Regions from separate parts of the Homo sapiens genome. Here region 1 is linked to region 2. A link means that fine-mapping ties the variant in region 2 to the expression of a gene that starts in the linked region. Tissue or cell type: whole blood. Region 2 holds a variant in brackets; the other region holds the start of a gene. All regions are shown on one strand. Distances are from middle to middle.

Evidence for each region. PIP is the estimated chance that this variant, and not a neighbour inherited with it, causes the effect.
Region 1: it holds the start of LRRC8C, and the variant in region 2 is fine-mapped to the expression of LRRC8C in whole blood (TOPMed, PIP 0.96).

What each region holds. Positions count from the first base shown.
Region 1 is chr1:89,628,141-89,636,279 of GRCh38, reverse strand. LRRC8C (leucine rich repeat containing 8 VRAC subunit C) reads right to left here and starts at 3,160. Exons shown (of 3, transcript NM_032270.5): 1 at 2,958-3,160. LRRC8C-DT (LRRC8C divergent transcript) reads left to right here and starts at 3,386. Exons shown (of 3, transcript NR_033981.1): 1 at 3,386-3,623; 2 at 4,071-4,264. RefSeq lists enhancers at 2,189-2,238, 2,269-2,318 and a silencer at 2,699-3,358.
Region 2 is chr1:89,777,059-89,785,197 of GRCh38, reverse strand. The region is part of intron 1 of LOC107985744 (a long non-coding RNA gene); the gene reads right to left. Among named protein-coding and RNA genes, the nearest start is that of LRRC8D, 40 kb to the left of the region's middle. The variant T/C (reference allele first, on the strand shown) is at 3,281.

The DNA of each region.
Region 1 (8,139 bases), 150 kb after region 2:
GCAGAAGTTTCTACCAGTGCTAGGATACACTGGTGTTAATCCTTACTGAGCACCTACTAGGTGACAAGAGCTGTCCTTTACATGCACTATTACAAGTAATCTGCACAGTGATCCAGCTAGGGAGGCTTTATTAATCCCATTATACAAGAGGAAACCAGGGTTCAAAGAAGTTGAATAATCTGACCTCATTTGCACTCCTACTGCACGGCAGAGTCCGAATTTGACAGCAGCTTTTTCTGGAGGCCATTCTCTTTACCCCATGCCAAACCAGAATGATTTATAGTTCAAAAGGAATCAAGTAGATTCAAGGATACCTCCATGGTTATGTAACCCTCATTAGTTGTAATATGCTTTTATGAGTGATCTGAAACTGGAGATACAGTCAACACTCCAGAAATGAAGTATAAAATCTTGGGAGTGTGTTACAGCCCATGAGACCATCATTGTCATGTCAGTGATAATAGCTGATGGGCAGGAGTAAATTGTCCATAAGGTTAAGCTCTGGATCAGTCATTTAAGAGAAATCAGTGGCAAGAACATGGGTTTTAGAAACAGATGGCCTTGATTCAAAATTGGAATTCTGTTATATGGAAAACGCTGGGCAGAAAACTTTACAATCTCTGTTTCCTCATATAGTCACTATGGTGAGTTAACAACAAATTTATATAGAAAAAATAAATAAGCAGCTTTGGATAATAAAAAAAAGTATATCATTAAGACTAAGGAGGCTTGGCTTCATTCAGGCACTAACTTAGCTGCATAGTCTTCAGCCAAATCAGAAACTCTGAACTTCCTTCTTATGTAAAATGTGGATGGCACCATTTACCTTAGGGGTTCATTGTAAGAACCTGAGATAATGTGTATTAGGTATCTAGCATGCAGCTAGATTATGTTATAGCAATGTACCATATTAAATCATTAACACAATTCTTGGCAAAATAAATATAGTTTCCACCTCATTTCATTTTAAACTTAGGCTCGCTCTATTATAATGTCATAGGTGACTATAACTTAATAATACTATAGAGTATTAAAAATCATAACAATTTGGTAAAAATTGAACACTTGGGAGTTAAACATATTTCTAACTTTGTATTGTTTTTTAAAAGATAAACTTCATGGAAATAAAGTGCAACATTTTCATTCATTTATCTTACAGCTCCTAATGCATTATTTTCACTAAAAGCATTCCCTTTTAAAAATACATTTCATTAAAGTGCTTAATCTGAGAAATAATAGATTAGTACTATTAATAAAGGCTTGATTTTATTAATAAGAAAATTGTTAAATATACTTGGTATCTCTGATACAATTGTTGGGTTGATGGGTCCTGTCTGTGCCCAATCTATTATGTGAACCATGGCAAATATCCATCTTTGCAAAACTGCCCTACATCCCCCTCAAAGGAAACAAACTGACCCCAAGACAGAACTTAATCACTCCAGAGTAAAGCAAACCAATTATAGCCTTGGCCTTCCCTGTTAAAGCAAGTCACAAGAAATGCAAATATCCTAGACTAGAGCTGTATACATTTAATGTTTGTTTACACACTCAACACATTGTTTATGAATTGAGCGAGTTTTATGCAGCTCAGATTACGTTTTGGGTTTTCAACAAATTATTTAAAAATAAACAGAATTTATAAATGTATAAAAATTATTGGCTCTGGCGATTTTGCAGCATTGTGCTAACCAAGAGGACTACTCCACTTTTACTCCTTTTTCGTCTAAATGGCATCTTAATGACCTGCCCACGCTGAAGCCTCATCGATGCTTTGGGAAACCATCACATACCTGTCGGGAAATGTGACTGTTGGTTAAGGCTACGTTTCTCACACTACCGCGAAAGAAGTATGTGACTTACAAACGGCTGCGATTTCCTTTACCTATTCCTTCCTTCAAAGGCTGCTTTAAATGGAGGTAATTCAAGCCTCCCCGTGCCAAACACCGGCACTCCAACAAAGATGGATTGGTTCTTATTTTTTACTTTGAGGATGGGAACCTGAAAATGTTTCCTAACGTTTGCTGAGGCTTTAACATGTTTAAGGAATTTGAAACCAAGGGAAGTTTAGCCGTAATACTCTGAAATATCCGCATTAGGATGCGGGCTAGGTGTCCGGCTGTTGCAAAACTACGGAGGATGCGAGGTTTGGAAGAAACTGTTTGGACTTTGCTGTATACCGGGCAGGCGTGGGGGTTGGGGAGGGAAGAACCGGCTGAGGGAGAAAAGAAAGGCATTCGTGTCCACAGAACACATCTAAGGCTCCTGAGTTGCTAACTCCATCCCTAATCATCTCATTGGTGGGAACCAGCTGGAAAGGGAAAGATCAGCGAGCCTAGGCGTGGGATGAAGGCAGCGGTTTTGGCCTCAACCGCTGGCCTAAACACCTGGCTTCTGGGGCCCGCCCGATCAAGCTGAACCCCTTCCCTCCTGTCCTGCAGGTGAGCACACGGTGCTCTCACGTTTCTTCGAGAAACCTTCCAATTCCTTTCCCTGCCCAAAAGTGCTAACTTCAAGGGTTCGGAGGTGGCAGGGGGGTGATAGACCGGAAAGGACTGGCCCCGGGGTCTCAGAGATTTTCGAGGTAGGAAAGAACAACGATCGCCCCGGCCACGGACGCATTTCCCCTCGCGGACCGCCCCCCCACCCCCGCGCCCAGTCTGCAGGACCTGCCGCTGCGGCGCGGCGTTGGGCGCCAGGCTGAGATCCTCGCGCGGCCGCTCGGGCTAGCGCGGATTGGGTGGGGTAGGGGTTGGCGGGCTCCTGAGCCGCAGTAGCGGAAGGTTCCCAGCACCACACGCCGGGCGGGCAACCACATTCTGCCTGTCTGAGAGCCGGGGGGAAGCAAGGACGCGAGTGAGGCGGGGCGAGTCCCGGTCCGGCGCGCACAGCGGACCGAGCGGGTGGCCCTCTGCGGGCTGCCCCTCTCCATCCCTCCGCGGATCCCCCGCCCTTACCTCCGGGCGCGAGAGTGTCGACTGGAGAAGGTGCTAGGGAGCGGCGAGCTGCCTGGGGGTCGGGCTCAGCGGCTGCCAGGGACGGCGGCGTCGCCCGCGGGGTCGCTGCTCATGGCTTGTCGCGCCCGAGCACTGCGGCCGCGGCCACGGCGGCGCCTTCCTCCTACTTCTCTTCGCGGGCTTCCAGCCGGGACGCAGCTAACGCCCCAGCCCCGCAAGCCCTCCTCCCCTCCGCCTCCCCGGCCGCGGACGGAGCCGCCTCCAGCGCCGCCCCGCACGCAGCCCGGCTAGCGGCAGCCAGCGCCGCCCAGCGCCCGGCCCCGGGGTCGCCACCGCCCGCCGAGTCGACTCCGCGGTGCCAGCCCCGCTGTGACGCAGGCCGCGCCGCCCGGGAACTTCCTCCCCTGCAGAGACCACCTCGCTCCCGGGACTCGCCAGCGAGGGATGCCGCCGGCCGCCGGGGGCCTTCTCCAGGACCAGGAGAGAAATCCTCTCTCCGCTTCACGACGCGGCCACTCCCACCCCTGAGACGCCCACCTGGCGGACTCTGAGGGAGGATTCGGCTGCGTCTAATACCACCTCCACCCCTCATCCCTCACAATGCGCGGAAAACCACAGGCGGCTGTGCGCGCAGCGTCGGCTCAGCCACCGCAGCTCCTCCCCTGGGTAAGTTAGAGGGGAGCAGCCACCACTAAAAATAGCCCTTCTGGGAACTCCTCCGAAGGCCAGGGTCAGGATGAAGATAACCCCTCCACAGGAGAAGCGAAGGCCTCCTAAGAGAAGGGTGGGGAGGGGACGGTGGGATAGAATGAGGAAGATGGAGAAGGAGAAAAGCAAAACCCAATATCCTTGGATCATGAAGCCCTTGAGCCCCTTGACAACCAAGTCTCCTTTCAGGCCGGAATCCCCAACTGCACCGCCCCTGCAATACGGGCTAAGGGGCAGATTCCAGGGAGACTCAGTTGGAATGCCCCGCCTACAGCTCCCGCATAAAGGAGTTGACGGTGCACAGCAAAACCACCTGTTGTTTAACGAGTATGGAGGGAGGGGTTCTCTCTCATTGATTGATCTGAACCGTGCTTTTCTTCTCCCCATTTTCCCACCCAATTTCAGGATGAAAAAGCACTCTGACGTCTTGAAAGCTGGCAGCTCTCTGTTTGGAAAATCTCTGCCCAGTGAAAAAATGTACCGACAAGATTACTAAGTAACACAGTCTTCTGGGAATGCCTTATCAATGCCAGCTATTTGAAGAGCACCCAAAGTCAAACTAGTGCTCCGCGCTGGCAGTCTGGAAAAGGCAGATGTATGTGAGTAGAGAAACTGATAGACAACTAGTTGCTGGCCAGTTGGCCTGTTTTCGTGCTACAAGCCTTCAGAAAACAGTCGCCTCCTTTTACCACGTTTCTATTTCTAAACCAAAATGAAAAGGACGTTTGTTCAAAAGATATTCTCTTGGGCTTTACATTGCTTTCCCCCTGCTCACTCAGCAAAATCCTACACTTTTTTTCCAATTCCAATGCTGCTGTTGGGTGTCCTTCCCAGAAGACAACCTTAAATTCTCTTAGGCCTTAGGAGCTGAATCTAACACCAGTCTTAATTAACCTACAACAAGACAAAAATTTAGGTCCGGGCTTACCTCCTAGTCAGCAGATGGGAAAAATTCCTAGAGAGTCTCTGGGAAAAAGGCAAAGGCTAACTTTAGCAGTTTGCTAGAAAAAAAAAAATTCAAGTACCTTGTAAGTCACCAGGGTAGATGCAGCAATACTCTCTAAGGTAGCTTTACCTCTTCAATTCTCTTACCTTACCTGAATTTAAACACAGTGAGGCAAGTACCAAGGTCACAACCCTCCTGTGGAGGGCCTTATTCTGCAAGGGCTCTCTGATATACTTCTATCTTTGTACCGTTGGCACCTGACCACAAGCTTAGGCATCCCTGAAATGCTCCCTTGCTACCCAGTGTCAAGGAATCATTGAACCTTAGACTTTGTACTCAGGTGAACCAGGATGAAATCCCTATTCTTCCAGTTTAAACTTAGGAAATTTACTGTTCTTTTTATCTGCCCCCTCCCCACCACCCACATCCCCTTATCATCCCTATAGGTATAGTACTACAGGGTGCTGTGAGAATTAGCTAATATGCTCAAAGCACCAAGAACAGTGCCAATCACTTTGTAAGTAGTCAGTAAATGAGAGCTACTATTGTACTTAACTACTCTTCACTGAAAGCAAAAGAACCAGGAATAGCAAAAAGGTTTGGAAACCTGGGATCTGAATCCCCTGCAAGTTGAGTCCACCCCAAGTTGCTTTATTGCAATACTTTTGGCTACTCTTGTGTCTGCCTTCTAATTGGATCAACTGGGTAGTTCTTCACGTGTAGGCAGGTGATTCACATGCACATTAATGCTTGAAAGCCACTAGTCTAAAAACTATGCTACACTGGTTAGTTCACCTCTTCTTATTTTGTAGCATGTAAACCTTAAATCTAGTGATCTTACCTCAGTCCACCTAATTCACATTAACATCCACACTTAGCAAGCTCTCTGTAAAGGACTGGTAGAATTAGCAATCAGTCAACTTGAGTGAGGGTCTTAAAGAAGTACAAGGCTTATTCTCCGACTTCAGGGTGTTCATAGTTCATGGGAATCATGCATACACACAAACCAGAATAAACCATTTTGAAGCAAATGTGCTTGAAGTTCAGCACATCTCCAGGAAGGAGAGGGTACTGTGAGCTAGATGAACTGGGTGCACAGACTCTGTCTTGACCTTTCACTTTATACCCAATTCTTTAGGCTAAATTTTGACATTCTAATTGGACTTCCAGAGTTAGTAGTTCTCACACTAAAGACTGTGTAATTACAAGTTAACCATGTACAGGTTGGTGATAGAAGCAGAAGTAGATATTTCTGGGCTATGCAGGGCTATGGTAAGGGATTTGGAATGAAATAGGTCTGGGCTTAAATCTTGTATCTCTAGCTATGAACTTCAGTTTCCTCATCAGTCTATTGGAATATAACTACCTTTTAGGGTTGTGGTGAGACTTAGAATATCTGTAACCCCTCTAGTGGGTTGTATGGTAACAGCAATTGTGTCACATTGTTGTTTTGTTGTTAGCTGTAAGAAAACTCAGGCTGGGCTGAGTTGTTCCTTGAAGGCGTAATTAATTAATTTTTTCTGAGACAGAGTCTCATGCTGTGTGATCTCGCTGACTGCAACTTCCGCCTTCCAGGTTCAAGCAATTCTCCTTGCCTCATCCTCCTGACTAGCTGGGATTACAGGTGCCCGCCACCACGCCCAGCTAATTTTTGTATTTATTTATTTTTTTTAGTAGAGATGGGTTTTCACCATGTTGGCCAGGCTGGTCTCAAACTCCTGACCTCAGGTGATCCACCCGCCTTGGCCTCCCAAAGTGCTGGGATTATAGGCATGAGCCACCACGCCTGGCCTGAAGGCATAATTTAAAAGTCACCTTCTCTATGAAGCCTCCACAGGTTCTAGGCAAGTATAACTCTTCCTTCCTTGTGTGACCACAGCACTTACCATGGCATGCTCTCATTTGTCTCTTTACATGCCTCTTCACTACAGAGTCTGGGAGCCTCTCCAGGGCAGGGCTGTATCTTGATTCACTTTTATGTCCATTATCAATACCCTGCACAGGACCTGATATTAAATATTGAAATAATGAGTTTTTAAGTGTTTCAGTTTCTTGTATTGGTTCTGACTTTCAGTATAACTCTTATTATACTACAGGCTCTAAAACCTGAACCCTTTAGCTCATAAATAATTCATACTAAATTTATGTATTATGTATATGTATCTGCTTAAACCTTGATGATGTCAATGCTGGGATTGTTCTTTCAGATCAACCTGCTATTCTTGTTTTGTTTTGCATTTGATTTCAGTTGATCCTACCTGGTAAGAGTGCAAGTAAAATCTACATTCTAAACCAAAACCACCAGCAGGATTTTACGCTGCATTCTCTATCCACCCTGTGCACATCTGCTCCCCATACCATTTCTGAGCTTTGTGGGAAGAGGCTGAGCTAAAAGAAAACGTTGTTGTTTTAAGTTTCAGTTGTTTAGACTGTTGCAACCATTAGCACTTTCTGAATTAATACCTGCAAGATAAATGCTACCTTTAGCAACAGTTTTGAAATCCTTGACTCTGTGCCATTAAAAATGCTAGACAGGGAAAAATAAAACCTTCCCTAGAAAATTCTTTTGCCCAGAAAGTTGCCTGAGAGGTAATGTCAAATGTGGACTTGATCCCAAAATGGCAGTTGAATTTGTACCAGAGGAGATGGTGGTCTATTGGGGCTAAAAATGATACCCCAAAATGAAGGAATAAAAAGCAGCCTCAGAAGCAAAGTCTCTGTCTAGCTTTCTCCTGCCCTCCTGTCTCTCACTCTCTTATTCTCCCTTGAAGCAAGCCATAGAAACTGGAATCCTTCTTCCCTGAGGTGGGTCATATAAACCAGAACCTTTTCCCCAAAACCAGCCTTAGAGCCTAAACATTTTACTCTAATCTTCTCCCTCCCTTCCCTTTCTCTTTCTTGCTAACTGCTGGCCATAAAGAAATTAAGACCCTCATTCCAGGGGGTCCTACCCCATACCTGGGAGGAAGGAATGTTATATCGAAAGGCCAAGAAGAAATCTGAACAGACAGGCCTTGCTGGATTTCCCCATTCCCCTTGCTGGATCATACCCCTTTTGTCCAATCATATTTCTACACAGCTTTCCATACTTCATTGAACCCAAGCATAAAAATGGGCCAAGAGAAGGTGGCTCATACCTATAACCCCAGCATTCTGGGAGGCCGAGGTGCAACATCACTTGGGCCCAGAAGTTACAGGTTACAGTGAGCTATGATCAGGACATTGCACTCCAGCCTGATCTACAGAGTGAGACCCTAAATCAAAAATAAAAATAATAATAAAGGAATAGTTGCCCCTATATCTTGGGGTCTTCATTCTGAAGGCTCCTGTGTCACACAAAACTACGATCAAATAAATTTGTTATGCTTTTCTCTTGTTAATTTGCCTTTGTTAGAGAGGTGTCAACTGTTATGATAGGAAGGAAAGGAATCACCCCTTTTTGCTCCCTACAGTACCAAGGACCTAAAAATAGGATTCTATAAAACTTTGAATCAGATTCTTCTAAAACAAACCTTATTTATTTTACCA
Region 2 (8,139 bases):
GTCCCTGTCCTCCACCTGCTGGGAATGTTGGCTGTCAAAGGCATACAGGTGTGTCCCTCATGGGGATTGCCTTGGCTGAGAACTGCCTTGCTCTCCCAAGGGGCAGCCCCCCACCAAAGCCTGGCCAATGTATGGATACGAACACCTGGCCACCTTGCCTGTGGTAGACAGAATGATAGCTTAATCCCCAGACCTGTGAATGTGTTAGGTTACATGGCAAGGGGAAGTAAGGTTGCTAACCAGTTGACGTTCTGATGTAGAGATTGTCCTGGATCATTTGGGTGGGCCCAATGTAATCACAAGCCTCCATGTAAATGAAAGAGGGAGGCAGGAGTCAGAGTCAGAGGAAGAGATGTGTTGATGTGATGGCAATTGCTGGGATTCAGTTGGCCTCTAAAAGGTGCAATGCAGGCAGCTTCTAAGCTTCTAACAGCAGGAAAAGGCAGGGAAACAGATCCTCCCTCTCAAGTCTCTAGCAGAATGCAGCTCTGCTGACACCTTACTAGTCCCATGAGACTCATTTCGGGCTCTTACAATTCTGTTATTTAGAATTGTAAAATAATACACTTCTGTTGTTTTAAGCCACCAAGCTTGTGGTAATTTGTTATAGCAGCCATGGAAAACTAACCTAATTTTGGACAACTCTGAAGGGCCATCCCAGCTCCAGGGCTCCCCATAGGATTGGCTGAGGCGTCAGATGCCACCATCTTTCAGGTCAGCTTCTCTCTCTGACCTATTATGCTTTCCTCAAGTCCTGACACAAGTATCTCCCAAGAGCACGCTCTATAACCCTGTGGATGTAATTGCTCATCTCAGAGTTAGTTTCCAAGGATCCAGATCTAAGACAATATCTTACCTGGGTTGTTATAATAGCCCCCTAAATGGTCTCCTTGTTTATATCCTTAACTCTGCAGTCTCTGCTCAACATGGGAGCTGCAAAGACTCTGTTAGAACATAAATTAGATCAAGACACTCCATAGCTTTCCTTTCCACTCAAAGTAAATGTCAAATTCCTTTTTTTTTTTTTTTTTAAGACAAGGTCTGGCTCTATCACCCTGGCTGGAGTGCAGTGGTGCAATTTCAGCTTACTCCAGCCTCCACTTCCCAGGCTCAATCCATCCTTCCTCTGCCTCCTGAGTAGCTGGGACTATAAGTGCGTGCCACCATGTCTGGCTAATTTTTTGTATTTTTGGTAGAGACAGGGTTTTGCCGTGTTGCCCAGGCTGATCTCAAACTCGTGAGCTCAAGTGATCCACCTGCCTCAGCCTCCCAAAGTGCTGAAATTACAGGTGTGAGCCACCACGCCTGGTCGAGGTCAGATTCCTTACAATGACATAAAAGACTTCATAATCTGCCCAACCACCCTGTCCTTACTTCTTCAGCCTCACCTCCTGTGACTCTGTCCCTTGTTCACTCCACTTCAGCTACACTGCATCCTTTTTGACCATGCCAGTAAAGCTCGGGCCCCAGGCCTTTTGCATTGACTCTTTGCTCATATGCCATCTTTTCCCTGAGGTTCCTGATCACTCTATTTGAATGGCAATTGTCCCTCATCCTACACCAGCACACCCTATCCCTGTTACCTGCATCGTTTTCTGTATGGGCCTGTAAAGGGGCAGCTTAACTTCAAAATGCATTTTAAAATTTTTTTTCCTTTCTCTTGGGTTTCAAGATGTAACCTTGAAGCAAACTGCAGAAGCCTTTTCCCTTAGCCTTAAAATAGACTCCCCATCCCTCCCTTTCTCACCGTATACACGCCCTTCACATTTATCTAACTATATGTTAGTATCTAACTAGGTGCCTACTTAGAAGTTCCAGGGACAAATCCTGAGAGAGACAGATCAAGCCTGGAGACCCAGCTGCAGAATTCCAGAGATTACCTCAAGGTGGCTAATCAACAACCTGGCCATTGTTGAGATGAACGCCAGCCCACACTCCAGGTGGACCGGGACCCAAGATAGCCACTGGAATAAAACTCAGTGCAATTCCTGCATCCCTTCCATATCAGGTCTTCCCTTTTTAAACGCTTGCCTTTCCACCTCAAAATTCAAACTGGTTGCTTTGGATAGGAATCCAGCCACTTCCCCTTAGCCAACTTTGGAAATAAAGTCAATTTTCCCCTACCATACCTCGCTCTTGTTAATTGGACTCTGCAAGCAGTGACTGAAACTGTGTTCAGTTACAGGCTTATAACTTTCCAATATACTATATAGTTTATTTACTTTGTTTATTATTTTTCTTCTCTCATTAGGCTATACGCTCTGTGAAGGCATGTATTTTTATTCACTTACTGCTCTAGCCCCAGTGTTTAGGACTGTGCCTGGCAAAGAGTGGCACTCACTAAAAACTTGCTGAATGAATAAGTGCAGTGCACTATTCTAAAGTATTTAGAACAGTGTCTGACACATAGTGAATGCTCAATAAGGGCTAGCTATTAATATTATTTTTGCCAGTGGAGAGGGGGTCATGAGATTCCTGGCATTGCAGAAGCTACTCATATATATATAGCATTTGATCCCGTGATCCTGCAAGAAGTGGAAGACAAATAATATGCACATGTTAATTAGGAGCTTAGTTTCCTTGTTTTTATGTGTGTGAACCAACCCCTGGGATGAGTTGAATTCCCTTTAGAACAGATGTAAAACCATAGATCTGAGTCTCTCACATGTACCTAGGAGGTGATGAAGGGCAGAGAGGAGACTGTGGGCTGGAGCTGTTTGGAACCACAATTTGGGCCCAGAGAATCCGAGCTCAGGGAAGTCTGATCTGGCCCCAGGTCAGGTCTGATTGATTTTAGGGTCACTTTGGGAAATGAGGAAAGTCCAGCAGTTATACTGCAACAGAAAGGCTGATGATAGTTTATGCTGATTCTGAACTTTTCTTTATTGGAAGAGCTGCCTTTTTAAAATGAGATATGTATAAAGAAAGAACCCAGAGAAATATGTATTTGTTTCTGGTTCCTGGCATAGAGCTCCTAAAGCTCTAGTAATTCTCTGAGTGATAAGAGCATCTTTGTTCTAATGAGGCAACTCTTGCTGGGCTCCTTTATAACTTTGGGATTGAGGTTGGTTGCCAGGAAGACCCAGTCTTGATGAGAAACTTGGAAAATTCAGTCCCATCCTCCAAGGGAGAGAAGCTAGGGCTTCAGTTAATAATCAATCATGCCGACATGATGAAACCTCCATAAAACCCCCTAAATACTTGGTGACCACATCAAGGTGCTGGGAGGGTGCCAGAGGAAACTCCACGCACCACCCCCACACCTCGACTTGTGCGTCTT[T/C]TCCATTTGGCTGTTTCTGAGTTTGGCTGTTTCTGAGTTTATAATAAACTGGTACTAATATGTAAAGTGTTTAACTAAGTTCTGTGAGCTGTTCTAGGAGGGGGTTGTGGGAACCCCTGATCTGTAGCTGGTGGGTCAGAAGCCCAGATGTCCTGGACTTGTGATTGGCATCTGAAGTCTGATGTGGAGACAGTTTTGTGGAACTGAGCCCTTTCACTTTTAGCATCTGACACCAACTCTGGCAGTTAGTGTCAGAATTGAATTGAATTGTACAACAGCCAGTTGTTGTCTGGAGAGTTGGAGAATTGGTTGGTGGGAGGAAAAATCTCATTTGGTGCCAGATGTGTTGTGAGAAAAGAAAAAAAAAAAAAACAGCTCATGAGCTCTGTCTTTTCTTGAACTGACTGTGCTGTTACCATGCAGTAATAGTTGAAGGTGAGATCCTTTCTTTTGGTATGTTTTAGGGAAAAAAGCCCAGAAACATACTTTAAAATTGGAAAGAGCAAGAGTATATGGATGTGTATGTGTAAGACATTCTGATTCCTAGGGGGATACGCAACCATCTTTATTATTATTATACATTTTTAGAGTCGAGGTCTTGCCATATTGCCCAGGCTGGCCTCAAACACCTGGACTCATGTGATTCTCCCACCTTAGCCTCCTGAATAGCTAGAACAATAGGCATGTACCACTGCACTCGGCCACAACAATTTTAAGAAAAAAATCTGGCCTGACAAGGTGGCTCATGCCTATAATTCCAGCATTCTGGGAAGTCAAAATGAAAGGATTACTTAGGCTAGGAGTTAAAGACAAGCCTGGGCAGCATAGTGAGACCTCATCTCTACAAAAAAATTAAAAAAATTAGCTGGGTGTGGTGGCATGTGTTCAGGAGGCTGAGGTGGGAGGATTGCTTGAGCCCAGGAGGTCAAATCTGCAGTGAGGCATGATGGCGCCACTGCACTCCAGCCTAAGTGACAGAGTGAGATCTTGTCTAAAAAAAAAAAAAAACTATCCTGCTTGATATAGATCTAGATTTGTAGTCATCATAGAATAACAACATGGCCAATTCTGCCATCTGTTGGTTGTATGAGCACTATGAATAATCAACTCTGTGTGTGAGACACTTGAAATCATTGAATGCTGGAATGAAAAACCATATAATGCATAAGCTGTCAGGGACAGGCGGGGTCAGTCCTGTTTCTCATGATCTTTTTGAAATAGATAGACACTTTATAACCTTTACTGCTTGTTCAATTCAAAAACAGACAACACATTGGAATGTCGTCGTGGCACTGAAGCTCAGCTCTTTTTTGATCCCTATTGTTGATGTTAGCACCTATTCAGATCCCTTTATAATGACACTGGAAATTACATATGTGAAAATATGTATACAGTTATTCCTGTAATCTTTTGTTAAAAAAGGTTAATTTCCAATTTTTAAATAATTCACTTTAAAGATATGGGATGGGGGCTCTTTCCTGAAATTTAGATAGTATTCAAATCATAGCATAGTGCCTGAGGACTTCCACATCTATTGCATACTGCTTGCTTAATGAAAGTTGAATTTCTAATGCCTTTAAAAATTAATGCTTTGGCTGGGCGCGGTGGCTCACGCCTGTAATCCAGAACTTTGGGAGGCTGAGGTGGGCGGATCACGAGGTCAAGAGATCATGACCATCCTGGCCAACATAGTGAAACACTGTCTCTACTAAAAATACAAAAATTAGCTGGGCGTGGTGGCGCATGCCTGTAGTTCCAGCTACTCGGGAGGCTGAGACAGGAGAATTGCTTGAACCCAGGAGGCGGAGGTTGCAGTGAGCTGAGATTGCGCCATTGCACTCTAGCCTGGTGACAGAGTGAGACTCTGTCTCAAAAAAAAAAAAGAAAAATTAATGCTTCTTAAAGAAGAAAATATCCTTCTACTCAGTGAGGAAAACATGATATATATGCTTATAGAGTATAACTTTTGGCTCTTGAATACTATACATTTTTCTTTGTCATACTTTTGTTAACTTATTACAGTATCTTGAAAACTTTTGAAATAGCACACGTTGCTCAAGTATGTTTTTCCATTTGGAAAGTCTTAGTGCTTTTTCTACTGCACTTTTACTTAGTGATTCATTTTCCATCTTGTCTCAGGACCCAAGATGAATTGAACCAAACATGCAACCGCCCGCCCCCATCTTTACTGTTTTTCATCCTATTTTTGGTGGGCCATTTTATAAATTTAATTTTGAATATTAGTCTAATCTTCTAGGGTGTGATAATCTTGTCCAGAATTGCCTGATCTTCCCACTCACTCTTGCAGCCCAGGGGCTAATCATCTCCCTACTCCATTGACCTAGAGTGATGATTGATATTTCTAGCCACCTCGGTCTCCACCTATATGATTTTTAAAAATCTAATTTGCTTCAGATAGCCTGTGTGACAGGGATCATTTCCACAACTTCAATTCTTTACTGAGGGAATAGTCAGTGAACAGATTGAAGCCCAATGCTATCACTTTGTGCCTTCCCAATTTCACTTCTGAGTCTGCGTCAAAACAACACACACTTGAACTTGTATTTTTTTAAAAAATCTGCTTTCGTGCTCATAATCTTTTTCAATCTCTTTTCCTGGTATCTAAAATATCTTAGCAACAACTCTCATCTCTGAGCAACCATCAGGGTATAGTTTCAAATACTACAGCAATCAAAGCATCCTACTTCATTACTTGCTGATTTTTTCCAGGCAATCTATATTTATTTTGTGAATATAACATCAATATAGAAGCACATGATTTACTACCCTTCTCTCTAGTCCTCAAGAAAACTCTTTCTGCGACAAGCAAATTTCCAAGACTCCGTGACTTTTTCATTTTTTTTTTTTTTTTGAGACGGAGTTTTGCTCTTGTGGCCCAGGCTGGAGTGCAATGGCGCGATCTTGGCTCACTGCAACTTCCACCTCCTGGGTTCAAGCAATTCTCCAGCCTCAGCCTCCTGAGTAGCTGGGATTACAGGTGTCTGCCGCCATGCCTGGCTAATTTTTTATTTTTAGTAGAGACAGGGTTTCACCACGTTGGCCAGGCTGATCTTGAACTCCTGACCTCAGGTGATCCACCAGCCTCAGCCTCCCAAAGTGCTGGGATTACAGGTGTAAGCCACCGTGCCCGGCCGACTCTGTGACTGTTAAAGAGCCTTTGTTTGCTGCTGATTGATTAAACTCAGTTATCATTTGAAAACTTCCCAAAGAGGCCAGACTATATTCTGATGAGAAAAATCACTATGATGATATACTAACATGAACTCTGTGAACCTCACCATTAGCCAGAGATTTAAAAATATTTTAAATTGAGGTATAATATATAAACAGCAAAGTGTACAAATCCTGTGTAAACTTGATGAATTTACACACACACACACACACACACCCATGTAGCCACTGCCTAGATCAAGATATATTTCCAACAGCTCAGAAGGCTTCTTTGTCTCTCTTATGTCTCTTCTCAATATCCCACTTCATGTAACCACAGACCTGACTTCTATAACCATAGATTTGTGTTGCCTGCTCTCTAACTTAATACTAAAAGGAAACATAATATATGTATAGTTTTGTGTCTGGCCTCCTTTCTTATCAGTATGTCAATGAGATTCATCCATGTTTGTACTTAACGTAGGGCTGCATTCTTTTTTATTACTGCCTTGTTCCACTGTTTCAATATTCCACAGTTTATTCATCTATTCTATTACCGGTGAACATTTGGGTTGTTTACAATTTTGGGCTATTGTAAATAAAACTATTTAGTCTGAGATTTTCACATATAAAAGAGCTATACACAAATTCTGCTGTTTGGACAATCCTTTATGTGATGTTAGACACAGAGTAGGAAATTAAATCAAGGCTGGGCGCAGTGGCTCATGCCTGTAATCCCAGAATTTTGGGAGGCCAAGGCAGACAGATCACGAGGTCAGGAGATTGAGACCATCCTGGCCAACAATCGTGTCTCTACTAAAAATACAAAAATTAGCTGGGTGTGGTGGCGTGTGCCTGTAATCCCAGCTACTCGGGAGGCTGAGGCAGAAGCATCACTTGAACCCGGGAGGTGGAGGTTCCAGTGACCCGAGATTGCACCACTGCACCCCAGCCTGGTGACGGGGCGAGACTCCGTCTCAAAAAAAAAAAAAAAAAAAAAAGTCTTCTGTGAATCAAAGGATACAACTTTTCTTGTGTGTATCAAAGGATACTTTAAAAGCAAAAATACAACCTACTAGGTGGGGGGAAATATTTGCAAAGCACATATCTGATAAAGTATTAATATCTGGAATATATGAAGAACACCTAAAACTCAAAAATATAACTAAAAACACATGAAAAAATGCTCACCATCACTGGTCATCAGAGAAATGCAAATCAAAACCACAATGAGATACCATATCACACCAGTTAGAATGGCAATCATTAAAAAGTCAGGAAACAACAAGTGCTGGAGAGGATGTGGGTAAATAGGAACACTTTTACACTGTTAGTGGGACTGTAAACTCGTTCAACCATTGTGGAAGTCAGTGTGGCGATTCCTCAGGGATCTAGAACTAGAAATACCATTTGACCCAGCCATCCCATTACTGGGTATATACCCAAAGGACTATAAATCATGCTGCTATAAAGACACATGCACACGTACGTTTATTGTGGCACTATTCACAATAGCAAAGACTTGGAACCAACCCAAATGTGCAACAATGATAGACTGGATTAAGAAAATGTGGCACATATACACCATGGAATACTATGCAGCCATAAAAAGTGATGAGTTCATGTCCTTTGTAGGGACATGGATGAAATTGGAAATCATCATTCTCAGTAAACTATCGCAAGAACAA